2 linked regions of the Homo sapiens genome follow. The protein of the gene in region 1 purifies or fractionates together with the protein of each later gene. This does not show direct contact. Each region holds a gene or a part of one and is shown on either strand. Other genes may lie near its edges.

What was found. The genes of interacting proteins can lie anywhere in the genome.
Region 2: the proteins of ARHGAP24 (region 1) and ZNF729 purify together in Homo sapiens (affinity purification with mass spectrometry, with the first as the bait; one study listed by BioGRID). This does not show direct contact.

Annotation. Positions count from the first base shown.
Region 1 is NC_000004.12:85,992,650-85,996,149, reverse strand, and holds part of ARHGAP24 (rho GTPase-activating protein 24), read right to left. Parts: intron 1,568-3,500; coding exon 493-1,567; intron 1-492. UniProt on the Homo sapiens protein: Rho GTPase-activating protein involved in cell polarity, cell morphology and cytoskeletal organization. Acts as a GTPase activator for the Rac-type GTPase by converting it to an inactive GDP-bound state.
Region 2 is NC_000019.10:22,310,441-22,313,940, reverse strand, and holds part of ZNF729 (zinc finger protein 729), read right to left. Parts: intron 271-3,500; coding exon 1-270. UniProt on the Homo sapiens protein: May be involved in transcriptional regulation.

The DNA of each region.
Region 1 (3,500 bases):
GAACAGAGCCTGGCAGATAGAAGGCACTCTCTCAACATTCAATGATTGAAAGAATAAAACATGGAGGTCTATTTACTTCTACTTTTTTTACCCTAGTTTCATCCTTTTCTTGTTAGTGAAAACTAACAGGCTCCTAATGCTCTGTCCATCTCCTCACAGCCCCTCTCCTTCCAGCCCTCTAATGCAAATCTATCTATTTAATAATAATCAAAGATGACATTATTGAGCCTATTCTGTACCAGGGAAATGTTCAATCACTTCTTATGTGCTTTTGAGGTAGATACTACTAGTATTTAAATTGTTTACATTAGGGAATCAAAGCTCACAGAGATGAAGCTAACTTGCACACAGTCACAAAGCTCATAAATGATGGAGCAAACTTGTGTTTCTTTGACTTTGGAGCCAGCATATGTCACCCTCAGTGTGATCCTGTCCCACAGTAGGAGGCTACTGAGCCCTCTCTGGTAGTTACGACCTCCAGATTTTCCTTACCTCTTTATCCTGGACTCATACTCTATCTTCTGTTTGGTCATTTCCTGTTTCAGGCTGGAAACTAAACTGTGCAGTGCACTGTGGTTGCTGCTGCTGTTGCCCACAAATGTCTCACTGTTGTCACTGCTACTGGTGGCACGACTACTTCGACCTCCCACACTCCTGTGGTCACTTTTGCTTTCATAGTCCCTGGGGTGGGAAAGGTCGTCCTGCGGGGGCCCATCCAAAACAGGGTCCTCAAAGTTCCCCCCAAAAAAGTCTTGCTCTGGGCAGGTGGTGGTAGAAGAGCGACAGGAGTTGGAGTTCTCAGGGAGGGAGATTTCACAGGAGGAAGTGGACCAGGTAGCACTGTCAATGCTCTGCTTGTCATCAAGGTTCATCATGGAGAACTGTTGATGGACATTATCATAGGTGGACAGTCTGTTGTGCTGGCCTAACTCTCCAGCTTGTTCTTTCTGCTTGTTATCCCTCAGGGTCACATAGCCATTTGGCAGCCAGCTCATGTTTCGAACATTTGTGGGGTTCCCGAGTGTGTCGCTGTTCAAAATGCCCATGCGCACCGTTCCATTCTGTACACTGTGCGTGCCCATTTTGGTACCAGATACCTTCAGTGAAGAGCTCCTTCTGGCCTGTAGGCTCCCATTGGGGGTGGTTTGGGTTTTCTCAAGACCTTCTGCATTACTGCTGCTGAAGGACCCATTGGTAACTATCCCACTACCCTTATTAAAGGCTGGGTTCTTTTTGACCATGAGAGGGGGGCTTCTAGACACATCTAGCTTGTGAACACTGTTCTTTGGGCTGTTGGTTTTGCTGCCTGATAGAGCTGTGGGGGATCCATTGTTCATGCTGCTTCTCTGGGGTGACTCAGACTTGTCCCAGGAGCACTGCCTACTAGGGCTGTCCTTGGTGTTATTGTTCTCCTTGTTCTGTAACTGCCCCATGGTGGCTTTCTTCTGAATTTCATTGTTGTTGCTCACTCCATCTTGGGGCTTGCTTTGTAGTTCTGCATCTTTGGGAAAGAGGCAATCATGTTTGCTAATCATCACTGACATCAACTGCTGGACCACCACAGTGCCTAGAATTGCATAGAACATAAAGTAGCATGAGTGAGACAGTTTTTATTTATTTCTATTTCAATGTGACTCTTAAAGAAACACATTCAAGAGAACATTCATTATTATTATCAGTACCAAACCATATTCTTAACTATGATAATAGCAATAGAAGCTAAAACATCTTGAGCATTTACTTTGTGCCATGAACTGTGTCAAGCACTTTGCTTTTGTAATTTAATTGAATTTTGAAATAAATCTATACATACATACTGTTATTATCACTGTATTATAAAGGTTAAGTAACTTGATTAAGGTTACACGTTAAGGACCAGACCCAGGGCTTGATCCCAGGGTTCATTAAAAACCTGGGCTCTTAATCATAATACAATGTTTATTAAAAATTTGACATTTAATTCTGAGAAATATTTCTTAGGAGGAGGTCACTGTGACCTCTCATCTAATAATTGCCTCAAACTATCAAGATATTTTAGTGGCATCTGTAAATGGAGCCCAATACAATCAGGTGGATGCATGGTTTCTCTAATATATCAAGATAATGAAAATCCATAAGACTTTTGTTCACCATTCAAAAACTTCAGGGCATTTTAAGCGACATCAGCCAGAATGGTGTAGTGAAGACCTCCAAAAATCCTCTTCACCATATAAGCAACTAGCAAAAATCTCCAGAATCAACTATTTTGGAATTCTGTAAATTAACTAATGGCTTGATGCAATCTGGAGAGTGTTTACTTAAGAAAAATGGCTGAATCTCAGTAAGAGCAGCAAGGTCTGTGGCGTTTTAACTTGCTCTAATCTTCTCCTCCTCTCCTAGAAAACCAACAGCCCAAAATCACAAAGAAAACCAGCTATCTGGCAGCCACTGGAATGGGCAGAGCAGGGTTGGATTTTATGTAGTTTCTATATAAAATACTTAAAACTTGAGATTTGGTGAAGAAAATGATGCAAAAAGGCTTTTGACAATGCATAATTTCATTACAACAGCAGCTAATTGAGAGGCTGTCAGGGAGTAGAAACCTGACCTGAGGCAAGGCCACTCTTTAGCTTCCGGTGACACCTGGGAAATATAATTCAAAATCAGATTTTGAAGAGGAAAAAACATATTATATTCATTTATATTCTACACACTTTTCTTGTGATGATTCAAAACTTATAATATTTTCGACTGCATATCAGCAATAAGCAAGATCTACTGCTACATCAATGTTATTCAAATTTTAAAGTTCATAAAAATTACCTGGAGATCCTGTTAAAAGGAAGATTGAAATTCAGTAGGCATTGGGTGGGACATGAGATTTTGCATTATAAACCAGCTTCCAGATAACATCAGCAATAATAGAATAGTAGCACTGGCATCACCTGGAAGCTGAAAATTTTAGCACCCAATGCAGAGCTTCTGAATCAGAATCCCCAGGTGATTCCTGGGTGCATTACACTTTGAGAAACACTGTAGTAGATGCAAATGTTTCCCTTATATCTTCCAAATTAAATTTCTTGAAAGTCCGAAAGAGAGGATTCATTTTTTTTTTCAGATGAGAAAATTGAGGGTTAGAGAAGTTAAACTATTTGCTCAGGGCACAGAGACGATGTGATCAAGGTGAAATGCAATATTTAGTCTTATTCCAAATTATGCATTTGTCCTACTATATTTCAGCTGCTGCAATTTAAAACCGTAGCAGTAATAAGTAAACTTGGGATAGTTTTAAAGATAAAGTTAGATAAAGATAAATATCTATTGAATTACCATCAATTATTACAGAATTGTGAAAAAAGACAATGTAATAATTGATTGTATTATATAGCCTTCTTTTCTCTTTTAGGAATCTCCGAATTTGTCATCATATTTTCCATGCATGTTAGCAGTGAATCTGATAAAAAGAATTTTAGAGCAGTTAGAATAACTGTCAAACTTGTGTACTGTGTTTGAAGACATTG
Region 2 (3,500 bases), on another chromosome or scaffold:
TGTGTCTAACCTTATTTCTATTTGAATATTTATGAAAGACTTTCATATGTTTGTTACACTGAAATATTTTTCTCTGGGTAGCTGTCCTGCATTGGTTAAGTTTATTATAACCTTCTTTGTGCATCTTACCCTCATTGGCACTTTTACAATCTTTTCTTAATCGTAAATTCTTATGTCCACATCTTGCATATGTTCTCAGTATTACTTCTTGGAAAGAATCTTTTGTGCTCTGATCTGGCCAAAGGTCTTGTGTAAAATGAGAACGCATAACTAGAAGAAATAAAAATAACAAATTATTCCACTTGCTAGACTCAGATGAATATACTTTACAAATCTAACCTATAAAATTATGCAAACCACATAAGATGGCACAGCAAAATAAGACAGGCCCTAATTTCTTCATAGACATATAAATGTAACAAAAACATACTGACCAAATACATTTGTGGAAAATTTATATGTAAGTTAAGTACCCCAAGTAAGCACAATGCAAAGAGCCACACAGAAGGAAAGGGAAGTCGGTTACAGTTTCCCAATGCAGCTCTTCCTGCTACCAAAAATAGCATAGGCTCTTTAGAAGTAAATTGCTGACTGGGAATAGCAGTTCATGCCTGTAATCCCAGCACTTTTGGAGGCCAAGGCAAGTGGATTACCTGAGATCAAGAGTTCAAGACCAGCCTGGTCAAAATGGAAAAACTTCATCTCTACTAAAAATTCAAAAATTAGCCAGATGTGGTGGCACACGTCTGTAGTCCCAACTACTTGGGAGGCTGAGGCAATCACTTGAACTTGGGGAGTAGAGATTGCAGTGAGATGAGATTATGCTAGTGCACTCCAGCCCATGTGACAGAGTGAGACCCTGTCTCAAAAAAAAAAGGAAATTGCCAACTCCTGGTTTATTGTTTAAAGACAAATAAAACAGTGGCATGGCCAGGCGCAGTGGCTCATGCCTGTAATCCCAGCACTTTGGGAGGCCGAGGTGGGCGGATCACCTGAGGTCGGGAGTTCGAGACCAGCGTGACCAACATGGAGAAACCCCATCTCTACTAAAAATAGAAAATTAGCTGGGCGTGGTGGCACACGCCTGAAATCCCAGCTACTAGGGAGGTTGAGGCAGGAGAATTGCTTGAACCTGGGAGGCGGAGGTTGAGGTGAGCCGAGATCATGCCATCGCACTCCAGCCTGGGCAAAAAGAGTGAAACTCTGTCTCAAAAAAACAAACAAACAAAAAAACCAGTAGCACATATATATTTATTTCTGGCTTCCAGGGGCCTTTCTGGTTTTTGTCTCTGATGACATAAAGTGCTGAAAGAAATGGTGGCATACTTTAAAATGACAGCTTGAGTCTGCTGAGACCAAAGTTAGATGTTACAGCAGCACTGAATATAGTACCACACACACAAAAAATAGATGTAGCAAGTGATTACTATTGAGAAGAAACCTGAATAACGTTCTTTATCTAAACACACACACACACACACACACACACACACACACACAATTTCAGACAAGACACATTCTAAGAACATGTTTGACAGACTCCCAGAATCTCTAGCCAAGACAATTGGTTTCAGACTATTCCAGGACAAGGCTACATTATGAAGATTCCAACAGGTAGCTTTTTTGATGTACAAATTTTAATCAACGATTACAATGTATATAGAATATTAGGACAACATGGCCCAATCAAAAAAAGTATAAAATTTTTAGAAAGCAACCATAAAACAATGAAGATTAATAAATTAATTTTTAAAATTTCAAATAAATTAAATAACACTGAATGAGAGAAACAGGAACACAGATCACTATAAAAAATTGAAAAAAATGAGGATACCTCTTCCCCTAATGGCATGAGGTAATTCATGAAAATGGCTTGCTATTCACCTAAGCCAGAGAACCCCACAATATCATGCTAAACAAGAGGTTTATAAGGGCTATTCTTACATATGACAAAATATACTTTAAAGCAACAGCAATTAAAAAAAACAAAGAGGGACATTATACAATGGTAAAAGGTCTTGTACAACAGGAACATATCACAGTCCTAAACATACATGCACCTAACACTGGAGCTCCCAAATTTATAAAACAATTACTAGTAGACCTAATAAATGAGATAGACACCAACACAATAATAGTGAGGACTTCAATACTCTACTGACAGCACTAGACAGGTCATCAAGACAGAAAGTCAACAAATAAACAATGGATTTAAACTATACCTTGGAGCAAATGGACTTAACAAATATATACAGAACATTCCATCCAACAACTGCAGAATACACATTCTATTCAACAGCACATGAAACTTTCTCCAAATAGACCATATGATAGGCCCCAAAATGAACCTCAATAAATTTAAGAGAACTGAAATTATATCAAGCACTCTCTCAGACCACAGTGGAATAAAAGTGGAATTCAACTCCAAAAGGAACCTTCAAAACCATGCAAATACATGTAAATTAAAAAACCTGCTCCTGAATAATCATGGGGTCAAATATGAAATCAAAATGGAAATTAAAAAAATTCTTCAAACTCAACAACAAAAGTGACACAACTTATTAAAACCTCTAGGATACAGCAAAGGCGGTGCTAAGAGGAAAGTTCATAGCCCCAAACACCTACATCAAAAAGTCTGAAAGAACACAGACACTCTAAATTCACACCTCAAAGAACTAGAGAAACAAGAAAAAACCAAACGCAAACCCAGGAGAAGAAAAAAAATAATCAAAATCAGAGCAGAATGAAATGAAATTGAAACAAACCAACAGACAAAAACCAAAAGATAAATGAAACAAAAACCTGGCTCTTTAAAAAGATAAATACAATTGACAGACCATAAGCAAGATTAACCAAGAAAAAAAGAAAATCCAAATAACCTCAATAAGAAAGGAAACAGGAGATATTACATCTGACACCACAGAAATACAAAAGATCATTGAAGGCTACTATGAACACCTTTAAGTGCACTAACTAGAAAACCTAAAAGAAATGGGTAAATTTCTGGAAAAATGCAACCCACCCAGCTTAAATCAGGAAGAATTAGATACCCTGAACAGACCAATAACAAGCAGCGAGACTGAAATGGTAATTTTAAAATCATCCACAAAAAAAGTCTAGGACCAGACAGAATTTAGCAGAATTCTACCAGACATTCAAAGAATTGGTAGCAATGCTATTGACACTATTCCACAAGACAGAGAAAGAGGGAGCCCTTCCTAATTTATTCTATGAAGCCAGCATCACCCTAATACCAAAATTAGAAAAGGGCATTAACCAAAAAAGAAAACCACAGACTGATGTCCCTGATGAAAATAGATGCTAAAATCCTTAAAATAGTAGCTAACTGAATCCAGTAACATATCAAAAAGAGAATCCATGATCAAATAGGTTTCATACCAGTGATGCAGGGATGGTTTAACAAATGCAAGTCAATAAATGTGATACACCACATAGAAAGGAATAAAAACAAAAATCATATGATCATCTCAATAGATGCA